Linked DNA regions of Homo sapiens. The protein of the gene in region 3 interacts with the protein of the main gene of each other region in a biochemical or structural test. Each region holds a gene or a part of one and is shown on either strand. Other genes may lie near its edges.

Region 1 (7,076 bases), on a different chromosome or scaffold from region 3:
AAAGCAGCCAATTACTACAATTTCTGGAAGAAACATAAAAAAGAAATGTGTCAATGCCACTCCTAGCATTCAGAATTAACTTCCTCAACATACAAAAACAAAAAACAAAACCCTGATTCACACCTGTACTACCTAAACGCAATATGGAGAGAAAAATAAATAATGAAGTGAAACATATCTGATCCTTGCACATATGAAATTTGCCATCTTCACTTTTCACTTTTTTTTTGAGACGGATTCTCACTCTGTCACCCAGGCTGGGGTGCAGTGGTGCAATCATAGCTCACTGCAACCTCAAACTCCTGGGCTCAAGCTATCCTCCTGCCTCTGCCTCTAGAGCAGCTGGGACTACAGTCACACGCCACCACACCCAGCTAATCCAATTTTACATTTTTTAAAGTTCAACGTTTCTGAGGCATGGCTTGGATGCTGCCCTTTACCCACTAGCATGCCAGGATAACTCTGGCTTTCTAGATAGAAAAGAAAACACATTTCACTTAATGGTATGATTAACTCAAACAAATAGATATATTTCTTCCAAATGAAAAATCAGGCTAAATTTTAGTAGAAGTCTATTTTGGCTTGACTGATCATTTACATCAGCCTTAACAAGGACATGGGTCAGTACAACTGAGGCTGAAATCCTTTTTGGTGATGAGGAACCCATGGTTTAAATAAGCAATATAAATATTTGTTTCCACTCCCTTGCACACAATTTAAAAATCCATCCAAATGATATTTGACACAGCTTAACTTTAAACAAATCCCAAGAAGGGAGTCATGGATGTTAATAAAGAGAAAACCATCACTAGGGCTCTCATACTTGGCTTCTAATACTAATGAGTTACAAGGCTCTCAAATTCTACTCTATTATTCACTAATAAGAACACAGACCAAATTCTGCATCAGTTTTATAATCAGACGACAGTGCATCATTGTGTTAAATCCTCTGGAGCACGTGCAATTACCAGGCAGTTAGGGAAACACAAAACTTGGAGAAAGGATATTTCTGTATTGAAGTTGATGCTTTGGGTTTCAAAACCTACACGTTCCACTCCTTCTCTGAGGCCAACTGTGATCAAGGGTCCTGCAGATCAGCAACACACAAGACACAACTAATGTGCCTGTGAGTCCAGAGCTCCAGCAGCCAATGGTCCTGGACCCCAAGAAAATAAAAAGGTTTCCACGCACCGGAGGACCAAAGGTTTTTACTGCTTAAAATATGCTCTTTACTGTTTATGAAAGTCCTCTTCATTAAATTCTTAAAAAGCCCAACTTACTCATTCAACTCACTTGTTCCCAAACGCAGAGACCTATTTTGCAAAAACCAAGTTTAAGACCAAAGAGCAGGCTTTTTTATTAAAGAAAAAGAAAGCCCACCGCCCCCACTGCATGTGGACCTTAATGAAACTAATCTAATAAACACTAGAAAGAAGGTGTGCAAATGGGCCAGCATTTGCCGTCTATCCACCTGTGTCACCCAGGTAATAAAGGTCATCCTGGTTGTAAACCCCTGTGACAGCGTGCCGGGTTCGCCCCCACGCCGGACCCCCGACTCCGATCCACAGATCCTCTCCGTGAGGGGTTCCTCTGGGCTTAGAACGCCCCCGCGCGCGCGTGCAGGCACACACGCGCACACACTCACACGCTTGCTCGCACACCGCCAGTGCCTCTCCTTCCCACCTGGGACCCCCGGGCAGCCGGGCTGGATGAACAAGTTGCAGCTGGCCGCGGCGCTCCGCTAGGGGGACGAGGGTGGGGAGGGGGAGCCCAGCGGGGCGCAGGGCCGTGGCCAGGGCCTGGGGACCTGCCCGCTTCCCTCCGCGGCCGCCAAGCCCTACCGCTGGGACCGGCGAGGAACTCCCCCCAGCCTCTCCGCAGACGCTGCACGACCGCGGGGACCTCCCGGGGTCGCCAGCCGCGCCGGGCAGGGGGCGACAGGGAGGGCAGGGCACCGGGAGATCGCCGCCGCCGGAGCGGCCGCCAGTTCCCGGCGATCGCTGCGGGCGCAGCCGAACACCAGCGGCCTGGGCCCGGCCGCTGCTCGGGGTCGGCGGGGACCGCGCAGCGCCTACGCCAGGCGGCCCGGCGGCTGCAACTGGGAACTTCAAGCAAAGTTTTCTGCTGTTCCTTTTGCAGCCGGCCAGGGACTCAAGAGTGCAAGCCGCCCAACCTTGAGCACTAGCCCAGGCCGCGGAAGGACGGCGGCCGAGCTGGCAGTCCCGGCTGGGGAGCTCGCCCTCGGGGTCCGTCCGCTCCGCCCGCCCGAGGACTGGGTGCCTGCCAGCCCCACGGCCCCTCGCCCAGCGCCCGGCTCACAGGCAGAAGCGGTGTCCGGCCCGCCGCGCCCCCCGCCCGGCCCCGACGCCAGCCTTAGGGCTCTACCACCAGGGAGCTGTCGGCGTCCCGGGCGTCCCGCGCCGGCCCGCGCGCCTCGGGGGCGGCAGAGGCGGTCCCGCTTACCTGAGAACGTCTCGCCCGCCGCAGTTAGCAAAAGTCCGGCCAAAGTCGCCAGGCAAGTCCCAAGTCCCCTCATGGTGCTGAGTGCGGGCCGGGCCGCTCCCCGGCGGCGGTGGGTGGGCGCGCGAGGGCGGAGGGGGCCGGGAGCTTTGGTTCCGAGGCAGCGAGGAGAGACGGGTAAACAGCAGAGCGCTAAGCCAAGCCCCCAAAGTGCCAACAGTTGCAGAAGTCCGAACTCCAGCGGCTCCAGGGGCGCGGGCACAGGGTCCTGGGTCCTCCTCCCCTGTCCCTGGCCCCACTCGGCGTCTGGCGCCGCTGGCAGAGGGAGCGGAGGGCGAGCCCGCGGAGCCAAAATCTTCCCTCGGTTCCGGTTGCTGAGCTCGCCGCCTCTCCCCTTCCCCTGCCCGGGACCCGGGACCCGAGCTGCCGGCCGTGGCCGTGGCGGTGGCCGTGGCCGTGGCCGCGCGCGTTCCGCCCGCCGCCTCTCCACAGGCAGCCCCAAGCCCAGCCCCGGGCGGCGGCGCGCCGATGACCGAGCCCGCGCCGGCTGCGCGCGGGGCTCTTGCTCCCCGACTGACTGGCGGTGCCCCGCAGGCCGGCTGAAGGGAGCGCTCACGTCACGGCCGCCCGGCGCCGCCGCGGCCCGCTAGAGGGCGTGAGCGCCCGTGCCCCGCCGGCCCGCGCCCGAGCGCCTCCGGGAGCTCGGCTGGGGGCGGCCCCGCGGCCACAGCCACTACCGCCGCCGAAGCGGGCGTCAGCCGCGCGGGGAGGAGCGGCCACCGGGCTCCCCCCGCCCACCTCCTCGCCCCGGCCGCGTCTTCTATTTTGGTAGCTGGCTCTGGGGAGGGTGACTGTGGAAGAGGCTGCGCCGCCGCCAGAAGTTTGTCCCGGGTCACGAGCCGCGAGTAGTTTGTGAGCGCGGCCGGGCGGGACCAGCGGCCTGCGACCCCGCGGGCGCGGCCAGGCGGCTTCGAGCCTGGCGCCGGACGGCGATGTCACCGCACAGGGCCAGCTGCACCCGGAGTCGCCGGGCCTGCGCTGCTCGGCGGCTGCGGGAAAAGCGAGCCAGGAGATCGCTGAGGCTCCGGAGGGCTGCGAGCTTCTCTACGCCGCGGGCGGAGCGAAGTTGGCGGGCGCCGGGAGATGGCGCGGGAGCCGGGAGCGCCGAGCCCCGCGATCGCCAGCCCGCTCCCGGCCGGGCCCGCCGGGTACACGCCGCTGGCCCCGAGCACTGGCGCCCGGGAAGCAGGGCGCGCTTCTGCTGTTCTGCGTCCTCATCATGCCTCGGTGTCCCGTGTGGGCCCGAAGCGAGCCGCAGGCAGTACACGGAAGGCGGTGGTCACACCAAAACCAGGGTTTGGACATAACCCGTGGTTTCTGTATCTGGTGCAAAGTGCTGAGAAACAGGGGAGAAAGAGAAGTGGGGGGTGAATCAAGTAATGTCTTGAAATATTTTAGTTTTACGATTTTGGGTCTGAGTGAATTAAAAAAACCTTACAATGCTTCAGCAAAAAATAATTTTTTTATTTTAATTGTAAATTTTTTTGTAAGTGATCCTTCTATCTTCCAGGGAATAAGCACATTGAGCCAGCACCAACCAGACAGCTGTAAGCTCCTGGCCTAGCTAACTGAACGCAATAGAAGGCTTGGGAAGAGGTTAAATTAGGAACCAAAGTAACTGAGTGACAGGGTTCTAGCAATGATTCTGGCTAGAAGGCAAACCGGTGATACAGAGGCACCCAGGAGCTCTCCTGCACTTTTTCCGCAAGAGGGGTCCTCTGCTTAGTGCTCACTGCTTTCTAGTGCTTATAAACACGTAAAAAAATAAATGGATTCCACACTCATCTTGACCCTGTTCTCCACTGTACACCAGAACCAAGAAAGATACAGCTGTCATCCTCCCAAGGCAAATTTGGGGACTAGAAGACTTGCCTTTAGTGTGGCAACCAACACTCCTCTTACTTCAGGAAGTCCACTTACTAGATACTTACCAGACCTGCTCTTTAGAAGTCTCTATATTAATCATTTGCTTGTTAATATGAGCTTACATTGTCCTGCCACTTCTCCCAACTATGTGCTTATGGAACCTTATCTTTAATTGTGAAATGAACATTGAAATCTCAGAAAGGAAGCAATGTCTTCAAGATCAGCAAGTGAGGATGGTCAAATCTGCAACCTGGGCTTTCCATTTTGATGTACTTGTGTTCTATACTGCAGTTCAAATTTGCTTTAAAAAAAATTAGTAATAGGCTTTCCAATGGAGTTTTTCTGCTAGTGGGAGGACAGAGGTGGAAGCTAGGGAGACAAAAGTTGATCTAATCACTTTGCTTCAGAGTAACTTCTTTAAATTAGGTGAAGTTAATATTAGGGTAGGATTTCATTTGCAAAGTATTTTATTCTTTCAGCAAATATCTACTGAGTCAATACCATATGTCAGGCACTGTGCTAAGTACTGGAGGTTGTCTTAGGCTGGGCTCCCTCAGAAACAGACCTGGAGGTTAGGATTTAACTATAAGTGGTTTTGAATTGGGGAAGTGATCCCAGAAAGCACTATAAGGAAGGTGAGACAGCAAGACAGAGAAGAAAAAAAAAAGCAGACATCGATATGAGATGTGTCAATAAGCAGGTTACCACTATGGGCAAGGGAAACTCAATCCCCCTGCGGGGGGACGATGAGGAGCTGGATGGAAGAGGAAAGGGCCACTCTACGGACCTGCCACTGAGGCATTAGACAGAAATCCCTGCCAGTACTCCAACTGCTGCTGCCACAGGACTCCTCTTGGTAACCTCTACAAACCCTGTCCCTTCTGCCTGTTACTTAAAGCTTAGTGGGAGGGTCTGTAAATTTCTATTACCCCTGTTCTCTATCTTTACACTGTTAAGTTGACTCTACCCTTTGCAGCCTTCCATCCACATTTCAAAGGGTGGTGGGATTTTTGCCAGCAGCTTCTGCCCTCTCAATTCATGACAACTACTGTTAGTTTACTCCCTCTTACAGGTAACTGGTCAGAGCAGCCTTTGAGCCTAAATGGAAGTCCTCTGCTGAAATGAATGGATTGGACTTCCTCTAAGGAAGGGATGCTGTAGGAATCCTCCCAGTGGGACATTTGCTTTGACTTGTTTTTTCAGCAGTAGAGATTTAGTTTTAACCACATTTCACTCCTGACTCACTGAGGACAATAGTGACATTTGCAGAATGGCTGCTCAGAGTTAGGGGTGCTGTCAGGCCAGCCCCTGACATTGGTAGGCTTGGGCAAGAGTACAAATGCATAGCCACTTACCATATGCCTAATATTTCAAAGTTATTAATTAAGCTAGCAAACTACTATGTATATTCCTACCTTGACACATATAACAATAAAATTGAAATATAAAACCTACAGATTTTATATGACAAAAAGCAAAATATCAGCAACTGAATTATGCATATCTGCTAGACATTATACATATCTAGATTTTCTTTGATAGGCTATATGGATAAGTAATATACATGATTCATATATATTTATTCTATAAAATTGATATTTCTCTTTAGTAAAATCACTGTGTTGTTATAATTGAGATTTTCACTTAATTTGTGTTCCATTGACAGCGGTGATTGAAAGCTTTGCTGTTCTGTATGGTAGCACCTAACAGCATTTCAGGTGTTCTGTTCCTCAGTGACACTAGCTACATTTCAAATGCTCAGTAGCTTCATGTGGCTAGAGCTAATGTATTGTACAACATGGAGAGAAAACAAGTCCATCATCATAGAAAGCACTATTGAACAACATTGATCTAAAAGATTCATCTATTCAGGCCCCATGTGGTGGCTCACACCTGTAATCCCAGCGACTCAAGAGGCAGAGGCCAGAGGATCACTTGAGGCCAGGATTTCTAGACCAGCTTGGACAACATGGCAAGATCCTGTCACTACAAAACAGTTTTTTAAATAGTCAAACATGGTGGTTTATCCCTGTAGTCCCACCTACTCAGGAGGCTGAGGCTGGAGGATCATTTGAGCCTAGGAGTTTGAGGTTGCAATGAGCTGTGCACTCTACACTCCGTCTGGGTAAAGAATGAAATCCCAATTCTAAAAAATAAATAAATAAAGGATTAATGTAGTCAAATCATACAAAATGTTTGTACTTACACCACAAATGTAAATTCCTTTTTTTATTTCAGAAAATTAGAATTATTTTTCTATAGTTGTTAAAAGTTTTCTTTCAAATGATTTAAAGTTATCTATTAGAATTAAAATGCAAAATACAAATTATGACAATGAATATAAACACTGAAAAGTTATTTTTTTAAAGCATAAACATTTTATTTAATATTTGGAAATTTAATTACACCTTATTAATGTGTAAATAAAACATAAACTTAGCAATTCTAGCATTCATTGTCCACCTGGTTGCTAACATAAATAATCAGTATTATGTTTCATGTGTTATAACTTCATATCTACCATTTTAACAGTAACATTAATTAGTTAATTTTTCAAAATATTGGCCAATCACCACGTTCAACCGCATGCAAATGCTATACTGCTGTATGACTTCTGCCAGAACCATGAATTGTAACAAAAAGAGAAGCAAGAAAATGAATGTTTGGCATTGCTAGGAAACCCTCATTAT
Region 2 (2,654 bases), on a different chromosome or scaffold from region 3:
GTTGGATGTGTGGGTGTGGGGGGGCTGGGAGGAGGTGTGGGTGTTGGGGGGTGTATGCGTGGCGTGTGTGTGTGTGTGTGTGTGTGTGTGTGTGTGTGTGTGAATTCTTTGTAATGAAGAAGAAGAGGGAAGAAGCAGTTAAACTTTAAACCAGACATACTTATCCTCAAAATAGTTGTGGTGATATTATACCCTCATACTTTGTACTACAAATACATTTATTGGTTTGTAAAATATATAATCAGTTTATGAAAATATCCCTTATAAGAAGAGTAAGAAAACCAGTAAAAATGTAAAACAACCACATGGAAATTATGTCTGATTCCTTCTTCTCCATTTTATTTTATTTTTACCTTTTTTCTTTGAGATGGAATCTGACCATGTTGGCCAGACTGGTCTTGAACTCCTGGGCTCAAGCGATCCTCCCACCTTGGCCCCCCAAAGTGCTGGGTTTTTAGGTGTCGGCCACTGTGCCCAGCCACCCCCTCTTCCATTTTAGAAATGATGGGTACAGTAATGCAACCTTGCAAAGGGATTCCTTCAAGTTTTTCAATGTTCTTTAATAAAATGACATCAATTGCTGAAAGCATTATGACCTTTGTTATGCTACATAATACTGATACAAAATGTGAATAGTACAAAGTTCATTATATATAAGGCTTTAATATATTACATTTGTTTCTACATAAACAGACTATAAATATATGTGCCATAGCATGTCTTATAGTCATTGTTCCCAGCATTTCACACTATGGTACCAAACAAAAAACACATTTTCTTTTTTGAAAAAAAGGACAGAACAAGGGCAAAAATCAGTAGAAATAGCTCTATATGTTAAAAGTCTAAATAATACAATAGATGTTATAATTTGGGCTATAAAATAATTTTGAAGTCTGGCTAATAATCATTCAGAGAGTGAACAAACCCAATCAGGTTTACTGGAGTAGAGGCCAAATAACTAAAATACTGATGGGTTGCGGGGTGAGAGTGGGTTGGGGACAGGGGGAAGAACAAAAGGGTAAAATCCTTCCTGAAACTTTGACACCACACACAGCTTCACATTGAACCTCCCGCATTCAGTCTCAGACATATCACATCAGGACAGATATGAGGGTATTCATTCCAGAAGAAACCAGAAGCTGGTTTGTGCAGTCAGAACTCTTCAACACGGCAGGGAGCCTTGAGCTGAATGTCCTTTCTTTGTGGTATTCTGAATAAAGGATCAGCCTGGGAGACAAGGAGCCAGAGCTGCATCATTTCCTTCCTGGGGCTTGGCCAGGAGACACGTAACGGTCTGGAAGGAACTCTCATTAGGAGTCAGAAACAGCACAACGAACTCTACTTTAGCCCAACTCGAAGAACACGCAACCTTCTAAAACCAGAAACCCCGTCTGAACCCTTTACATTTCAGAACAGACCCCATGCCCACCTCCACCAGAGCAAACACAATGCATTTGCAGGCTCCAGTACTCTCCAAAGCAAGGTAACGTTAGTCTTCCTTTCTATCAATCCGAATTCCACACTTAAGGCTTGGCTTGGGACCCACGTCCTAAACAAAGCCTCTTGGATAGACTCAGCCCTGCAAATCCTTCCCATCTTCAACACCTCGAACACTTACATTGCCTGGTTTATCTTCTAGTTTTACAGAAGTGTCAGCTCCCCAGGTACTGCTACTTCTTTGAGGATGGGGCCATTTCTTGAACGTCTTTGTTCTAAACCCATGGTGAGACCCGCAGCAGGGGGCATGATAAATGCTTTTTAAATGAATGAAAAAGAGGATCAGGTCAACACTGGGAGAAGACACAGACACATTCTTGGGTCACAAGCCTCTTCCAGGATATGCCTAGAAGACTGGCTCCCTGCAGTCCGAGGTCCTTTTTCTGTTGTCGAAATGAAAATCAAATGCGGCTACTTCCTGCTGGTGGAAAGAACAACACTTGAAAATCTGAGCAGCACCTCTCATGTGATGTCCAGGAGTTGGGGGTGTGGATGCTTCCTTTTAAACAGGAGGAGAGCTCAGTGTGGTCCCCGAGTCAGGCTGGAGAATCTGGGCTGTGCTACCGGTTTGCACTCCAATCTCTATCAGCTTTAAAAGTTCTGCTTCCTCACTGGAGTACACGGTGGTGTCTGTGTCATCGGAGTGATATCCGGACTGGTAGCCGCTTGTCTGGTTTGAGCCTTCAGATGCCACAGACTCCCTGCTTTTGCTGGGCACCATTCCACTGCAGAAGAAATGGCAAACAAAGGAGTTGGCAGAGAGAAGACAATTCTTTTGCTTTTTACCCTCACCCCATTCCCAACTCCATATGGCTGCCATCTCCCTGGAGACCGCAGCCCCGTATCTCTCCCAGTTGTTAATCAGCATAGCAGGTTTACAGGGACAAGGTCTATTTTCAGGTACTCGCATGAATTAGTAGTTGCAGATAAGTCCTCTTACTCAGGTCCAAGTCTTTCAAGCCTCAAATGAGATGAAAGGCAGTTCTCTCGAGTTATGCAAAGGCCCCAACTGATGGAACATGTTTATGGCCTCGCAGATTGACAAATTTGTATACAGTGACAGGCGCCAAAGGGCCACTTGCATGATATTCAAGGAAATTGGGATGTTCTTAAATTTCACTTGTGCTTTTCCTATTGTGGCAATTTGGGAATTACGG
Region 3 (7,039 bases):
GCAGGAGAATCGCTTGAACCCAGGAGGCGGAGGTTGCAGTGAGCCAAGATCACGCCACTGCAGTCCAGCCTGAGTGAGAGTGAGACTCTGTCTCAAATTAAAAAAAAAAAAAAAAAAGAAACAAGGGTCTTAGATATGACATGACTCATCCAACCCTACAAAATGCCAGGACCCAACCATCTGCCCACCCCACTGGACCTTATCACACACCTATATGACTCAACTACATCTGCTCTAATAGCACTGCTGAATTAATTAACTTTTATTAAATGGTCTTCAACCTTACAGAGGCTCTTTATTCCTTATCTCTGCAGTGACAAATTCCCATCTAGTTTGTGAGTTCTAAATAATTTGGTCTCATGTTTTATTTCTCACTACTCACCTCCACCCACAGCTCCATTCTAGACATGTAGTCTAGTCGCATCATGCTCTTCCCTCCTTTGTACCTTTGTTCACATCGCTCTCCTGCCTCGAATGCCCTCTCTTGTCTTACATGCACACCCAAATCCTTTCCACCTTTATACATCTGGCTCCGGTTCCACTTCTTTTAGGAAGCTTCCTAATGCACTGCTTCACTGGCCTCTTTCCTGAAACTTCTCTTATTTTTCAGTCAGTAACATAGTTAATTTTGAAACAGTTCATCACTGTTTCAGGTATATATGTCACATTTCCCCAACAAGACCATGGGTTCACTGAGTTTAGGAGCCACATTCTGTACTTTTCTTCTATCTACCAAGGCATGTAACAGAATTCAAAATATATAATATTCAATAAATTGCAGTGAACCCTACACATTCATGGTTTCAACCAACCCTGAAACTGTTTGAAAAAAAAATACAACAATACAAAATAATACAAATTTTAAAAATACAGTAACAACTATTTACACAGCATTTATATTGTAGTAGGTATTATAAGTAGTCTAGAGATGATTTAAAGTATATGGGAGAACGTAAGTATATGCAAATACTACAACATTTTATTTATTTATTTATTTATTTATTTATTTATTATTATTTTTTGAGACGGAGTCTCGCTCTGTCGCCCAGGCTGGAGTGCAGTGGTGCGATCTTGGCTCAATGCAGGCTCCGCCTCCTGGGTACATGCCATTCTCCTGCCTCAGCCTCCCAAGTAGCTGGGACTACAGGCATCTACCACCTAGCCTGGCTAATTTTTTGTATTTTTAGTAGAGACGGGGTTTCACGTGTTAGCCAGGATGGTCACAATCTCCTGACCTCGTGAACTACCCACCTCAGCCTCCCAAAGTGCTGGGATTACAGGCATGAGCCACCATGCCCGGCCAAATACTACACCATTTTATATAAGGGACTTCAACATCTATGGATTTTGGTATTGGCCGGGGGTGGGGAGAATGGGTGCTGGAAAGAATCGCCTGTGGATACCAAGGGATGGATATACGGGATGGGCACAATGATTCTGCATGCAAGTGCCAGTGAGCTTCCTGTCCAAAGGACATCACCTGGACTCAGGAAGCAAAAACTTTCTCAGACGAGCCATAACTACCACTGTCCCCCAGTTACATTCATGCTCACCCCTAGGCTACCAACTGTTATTTGTGTCTCCCCTCCTTTCTCTGACATGCGCCTATCGGGAGAGCTTATCTACCAAACAAAGGAGTATGTTAGACCCTAAATTTTACCTGTTCACTGGTGGCTGGTGTTTCTAGGATTTCAGTCAAGGTCTCTCCTGGCTGGAACCGGATGACATCCACAATTAAACGTTTTGTACTGAAACGAGATGGGGGAGGCATTTAAATATTACCAGTGTTCTAGTTCCTCTCAAGTGGACCGAAGCAGCAGCAGCAGCAGCAGCACAAACAGTACCTCACAGAAGTCCCAAGCGGCAGCTGCCAGTACACAGTACTCAAGGCACAAGGCTTATTTACCCAGCCATTCCATAAGTAGGTACGAGGGTTAGGATTTCCAAGATTTACATTTCACTGTAGCATATTAGCAAAATAAGGCAGATAAGTCCTGTACCAAGTACAATATGCGAGGTGATTGGTGACTGGGATTATGACAAGTACGAGAGGTCAGGATGGTCATTTCAGGTAGGACCCAGCAGGTTCCTCTCCAAAGGCCAAGAAACCTTCAGATTACATTCATTTCATTCTTCCTTCTTTTGATACTCACTTCAGTAAGATGGTTCGAGCATCCATTTCTGCATTCTCATCTCCAGGCACGTCGAACTTGTTGGTCAGGGTGAGAGACACTTCCGTCTTAGCCAGTGCCTCCTTATTTGGGTCATTTAAATTGCCAGAGCTTTCCCCTGAAGTTTTGGGAGGGTGGAAAGAGTCAGCGTAATAAAGAGAGGAGATATTGGGGGGAAATAATACAAATATAAGATGATGCAAGTCTAAGATAATACTTGAATCACCTAACACATACAGTGTGACGAGAACAACTTTTACTGAGAAATAAAATGTTATGCCAAATGATAAAGGCAAGGGATCCATAATAACTCCATAAATGTTTGAGAAATCATTTCAACACTACAATATCACAATTCTCTCTGAAAACATTCTTTCTGGCTGGGTGCAGTGGCTCAGTCCTGCAATCCCAGCACTTTGGAAGGCTAAAGGAGGAGGATGGCTTGAGGCCAGGAGTTCGAGACCAGCCTGGGCAACATAGTGAGACTCCATCTCTATTAAAAAAAAAAAAAACAACTCAGGAGGATCACTTGAGCCTAGGAATTTGAGGCTGCAGTGAGCTATGACTGCACCACTGTACTTCAGCCTGGGCAACAGAGGGAGACCCTGTCTCATAACAAACAAACAAAAAAATTCTTTCCTTTAGAGGACTTTTAATTTATGTATCTGCAATTTTTTTAAAAAAACACAAGCTGGCAGTATGTATCTGCGTTTAAAATGATCTTTTCCTCTGACTCCAGTTCCTTATAGATATTGATCACATCTGGGCTTTTGTTGTTGTTGTTGTTTTCTCTCTTATGAAACTATCAGGATCACATCTATTTTATTTCTCAATGTATATCCAGAGTTTGGTATAGTGCAAAAAATAGAGGAGGTGACAATTACAACACTTTTCTGTCACATTCCCTTTTGATCTTCCAGGCAAAAGTTAGAACTCTACCTATCAGGGACTCGATGGTGGGCACCTCGCCGAGGTCGTCCAGCAGTTCGTGGATTGGATCATTGTGCTCCGGAGCAATGGCATCCTGGTGATCCAACAGGAGCTGCAAACACCAATGATCAACTCCATTTATACATTCAACTCTTCAGCCCGTCCCTCCCTAGAATGTCTAACAATGATCTGCACAAAGAGGTTCCAACAAAGTTCCTATATTCAAAGAAACAACAAGCAAATCCTCAGCAAACTAACCCAAATAAACAATATGATATATAAGGCACCACACCAGGCTCTGTTGAATGACTTATGTTATGATATAAGAAGAGGAAATACTGGTATTCTCTTAACCTCATGGCCATAAAGGATTCAAATGTGCCCTGTTTGAGAAAGAACACTGGCTGGGTGCAGTGGCTCACGTCTGTAATTCTAGCATTTTGGGAAGCCAAGGCGGGTGGATCACCTGAGGTCAGGCGTTCAAGACCAGCCTGGACAACATGATGAAACCCTGTCTCTACTAAAAATACAAAAATTAGCTGGGCGTGCTGGTGTGTGCCTGTAATCCCAGCTACTAGGGAGGCTGATGCAGAAGAATTGCTTGAACCCAGTAGGTGGAGGTTGCAGTGAGCCAAGATTGCGCCATTGCACTCCAGCCTGAGTGACAGAGCAAGACTCCATCTCAAAAAAACAAAACAAAACAAACAAACACAAAAAACCCACAAAACACTGAAACTCAAAGTTCAATACCCAAAGTCATCAATGTACCCTACTGCCAGTTCAAATAAGTCACGTGCACGCTTTTACTTAATGTTTCCAGTGTATGACATGATTTAATTCAGAGAAAAGTATACCAAATCAATGTTATAATTATTGTAGGGGCACTCAACAAAGTCTTCAAGGTGCCATTATCCCCAGTGATGCCCTCAGAAATGACAGTAACCTGAAATTTCATTTACATTTTAACATATGCCCTTGTTCCTGTTTTACATGTCCATGTCCCCAGAGGGGAAAAAATGATTTGAAAAATCTGAAGAAACATGGAGCTCCAGCTTCCAAGGGAAAAATCCACTCCAAGGCTACACAGAGAAAGCTAGTATTCTAGATCATGTTAGAAAAATAACGCAGAGAGCTAGGGTAAAAAGAAAGAAGAGTAAAAGCACTATTTTATTAAGGCAATAGATAAATTTAGTGGGATTTTGATTCAGTAGGCCTGGGGCGGTGTCCAGGAAACTTCATTTTTAACTATCAGCCCATAGGATTCTGATGCAGGTGGCCTGGGAAGACCTTTTAGAAACTTAGCAGTAGATACTGTTAAGAATAACAAGCAAAAGGCCAGGCGTGGTGGCTCACGCCTGTAATCCCAGCACTTTTGGGGGCCGAGGTGGGCAGATCATGAGGTCAGGATATCGACACCATGCTGGCTAACACAGTGAAACCCCGTCTCTACCAAAAATTCAAAAAATTTAGCCAGGCACGGTGGCGGGTGCCTGTAGTCCCAGCTACTCGGGAGGCTGAGGCAGGAGAATGGTGTGAACCCAGGAGGTGGAGCTTGCAGTGAGCCGAGATCGCGCCACTGCACTCCAGCCTGGGCAACACAGTGAGACTCTGTCTCAAAAAATAAATAAATAAACAAAAAAGAATAACAAGCAAAAAAAGAGACATCAAGGAGATGCATTGTCAGTTAGATTACAGGAAGGTTAGACACCTGGCTACCAGAGATGATAAGCAGCAGCCAGGGATAATAATTAAGGACAATGAAATTAAGTAATTAAAGAAAAATACTTACAGTGTGGGTGTTGATGATTTCACCAATGGAAATGTAGATTACTGGTTTGGTGAGGGTTACTAAATCAGAGTACTCATCCACATTAAATTTATCCTGAAGCTCTGGGACATCACAAGCAGTTTGGAAAAACCGTCTGAAATAAGCACAGGAGGCAGCCCCCCAAAAAGGGACATACACATGAAGTTGGCAAGAGGACATTTCACAAACCTCTCACACAATGAGTGCAAACAGAAGCCAGTCAACAGTTACTTCAAGAGAAAGTGCTGTGTGTTTGCTGTGCTTGACAACCTTGGGATAGTGGTTCGAATAACTTCTTTCTCCACCTAGTTTGTAGTTTTAGTTTTACCCATAAGAACCATTGCACCATGACTTAAAAGTTTCCAGACACCATTAGGAGAACCAATTCTATCTCTAAGACAGTGCTCTGAAGCACTGAATTCAAAACTAGATGTTAATTTACAAAAATTAAAAGCATTCTCCAATTCTTCTCTGATTACAAGGTAACATGTACTAAATGCATAATCATCATTATTTTTATGTTAACTACTATCTATTTCATAAGTGTTAACTACTATCTATTTCATATGAAAATTCTCTTCAAAGTAAATGGATCATCTTCTGGAATCCTGGGCACATCAAACACGTCTTCTACATATGGCAGTCCGGGGAAAGTGAGAGGTGGTTTTTAATCTTATTTTTCCCCTCAACAATAAAAATACATCCACAGACTCTCTTAAGCACTTGTGCCTTTCCCCTTACCTGAATTTCTGGTAGGACTGGGAAAGATATTCATTAATGATGCTTAAGTGGGCATTATCTCCCAGAAACATCTTATTGGAAGCAGCATGCTGAAGCATTTTTGCAATGGAGCCCAGATTTCGGCGTTGGTCTGTGGTAAGCTGGCCTCCTGCTGACAGGTCAATGATGTCAAAGGCATCAGGAGCAACAATGGCTGGATTCATGTATCGATAATAAAGCAAGTTACCAATAATCTGGAACAGACGAAACAGAAAGATGGGTATTAAAAGACATACCACCAAGGAAGCTATAAATGACTTTGCTAGCAAAGAAAAGCAGAAAATGCAGTCCTATGAGGAAAAAATAAATAAAAAATACATATACACACGCATGCATGCACATATACACACTCTCTCTCATGGCCTGGAACTAAATGAAATATCCCTTTGTTCAATACAGGAAAACAATGAGAACAGAACTGAAAACTACTGCCAGTAGTTAATGAAAGAGCAGATTCAGAAGGTAAAAATGACACACTTAAAGTCTGTTATTAAGTATTTCAGGGCATCTTTTGTTCACATATCATGGTAGCAAATAAGGCTGCTGTCACCCACATGCACTTTGTACTTTCATGTAGATGGGCTTTCCTTATAAAAAGCTAACAAACATAGCTAAATTCCTTAACATGACCCAATCAGCATAGAGTAACCCCACCTCCCAACATTCTCATGCTGCAGACTTCAAAGGCCAAGTTCATGCCTCTGAAATTAAATTCACTTAACACACATCTCTTCCACAGAAGAATTCAGGGGCAGTCACAGCATTTCCCCTAGAGTTTCATTCAGAAGAAATAAAATTAATTCACCTGAACAGAAAGTCTAGAATCGAGGCCTCACTGTAGGAAAGCACAGAACTAGGAGAGAGAAGAAAAAAGCATTCAGATTAAAAAAAAAAAGAAAAGAGAAGAGCATAGCTGAGTAAGAAAGAGTTATCAGCAACAGCCTTAGCAGAAACAACTGTGCCTGCTACTATTCGCCAGGTCACCAGCAGAGGGAACAATACTACAGCGAAAAGATAGGACTCAAAGAAACTCATCTGAAAACAGGAAAAATCCATCTTTCTACTTGTTTGATGTTTGTGTGCCAAACTATAGGAAGTGTTTCATCCTAAGAGAGGTACCATTTACCAATTACAATTGCTTTCAAAAGCTCACAATCAATGGTAAGCTACTGCCAGAACCTACACTTAGGCAGTTAGTAATGATCTATGGTCAGCCCTGGTTTTATTGCTTTGTCCTCAAAGGGCAGGAGTCTGCCGGCTATGAGATTCTTACCTTCAGCAGCTCATCCTCACCAGCATCAGGGAACTTCTCATGCAACGAGTCCTTCAGCACTTTGGCAATGAAGCGCAT

The links. Proteins that work in one complex are often made in the same cells at the same time.
Region 1: the proteins of IQGAP1 (region 3) and PTPRM form a complex in vitro, tested with the Homo sapiens proteins (one study listed by BioGRID).
Region 2: the proteins of IQGAP1 (region 3) and KDR form a complex in vitro, tested with the Homo sapiens proteins (one study listed by BioGRID).

Annotation. Positions count from the first base shown.
Region 1 is NC_000018.10:7,563,279-7,570,354, reverse strand, and holds the start of PTPRM (receptor-type tyrosine-protein phosphatase mu isoform 1 precursor), read right to left. Parts: upstream 3,040-7,076; 5' UTR 2,537-3,039; coding exon 2,464-2,536; intron 1-2,463. UniProt on the Homo sapiens protein: Receptor protein-tyrosine phosphatase that mediates homotypic cell-cell interactions and plays a role in adipogenic differentiation via modulation of p120 catenin/CTNND1 phosphorylation.
Region 2 is NC_000004.12:55,077,942-55,080,595, forward strand, and holds the end of KDR (vascular endothelial growth factor receptor 2 precursor), read right to left. Parts: intron 2,223-2,654; coding exon 2,000-2,222; 3' UTR 540-1,999; downstream 1-539. UniProt on the Homo sapiens protein: Tyrosine-protein kinase that acts as a cell-surface receptor for VEGFA, VEGFC and VEGFD. Plays an essential role in the regulation of angiogenesis, vascular development, vascular permeability, and embryonic hematopoiesis.
Region 3 is NC_000015.10:90,482,204-90,489,242, reverse strand, and holds part of IQGAP1 (ras GTPase-activating-like protein IQGAP1), read right to left. Parts: coding exon 6,962-7,039; intron 6,542-6,961; coding exon of another isoform or gene 6,521-6,541; exon of another isoform or gene 6,494-6,520; intron 5,883-6,493; coding exon 5,650-5,882; intron 5,024-5,649; coding exon 4,891-5,023; intron 3,214-4,890; coding exon 3,111-3,213; intron 2,290-3,110; coding exon 2,154-2,289; intron 1,749-2,153; coding exon 1,661-1,748; intron 1-1,660. UniProt on the Homo sapiens protein: Plays a crucial role in regulating the dynamics and assembly of the actin cytoskeleton.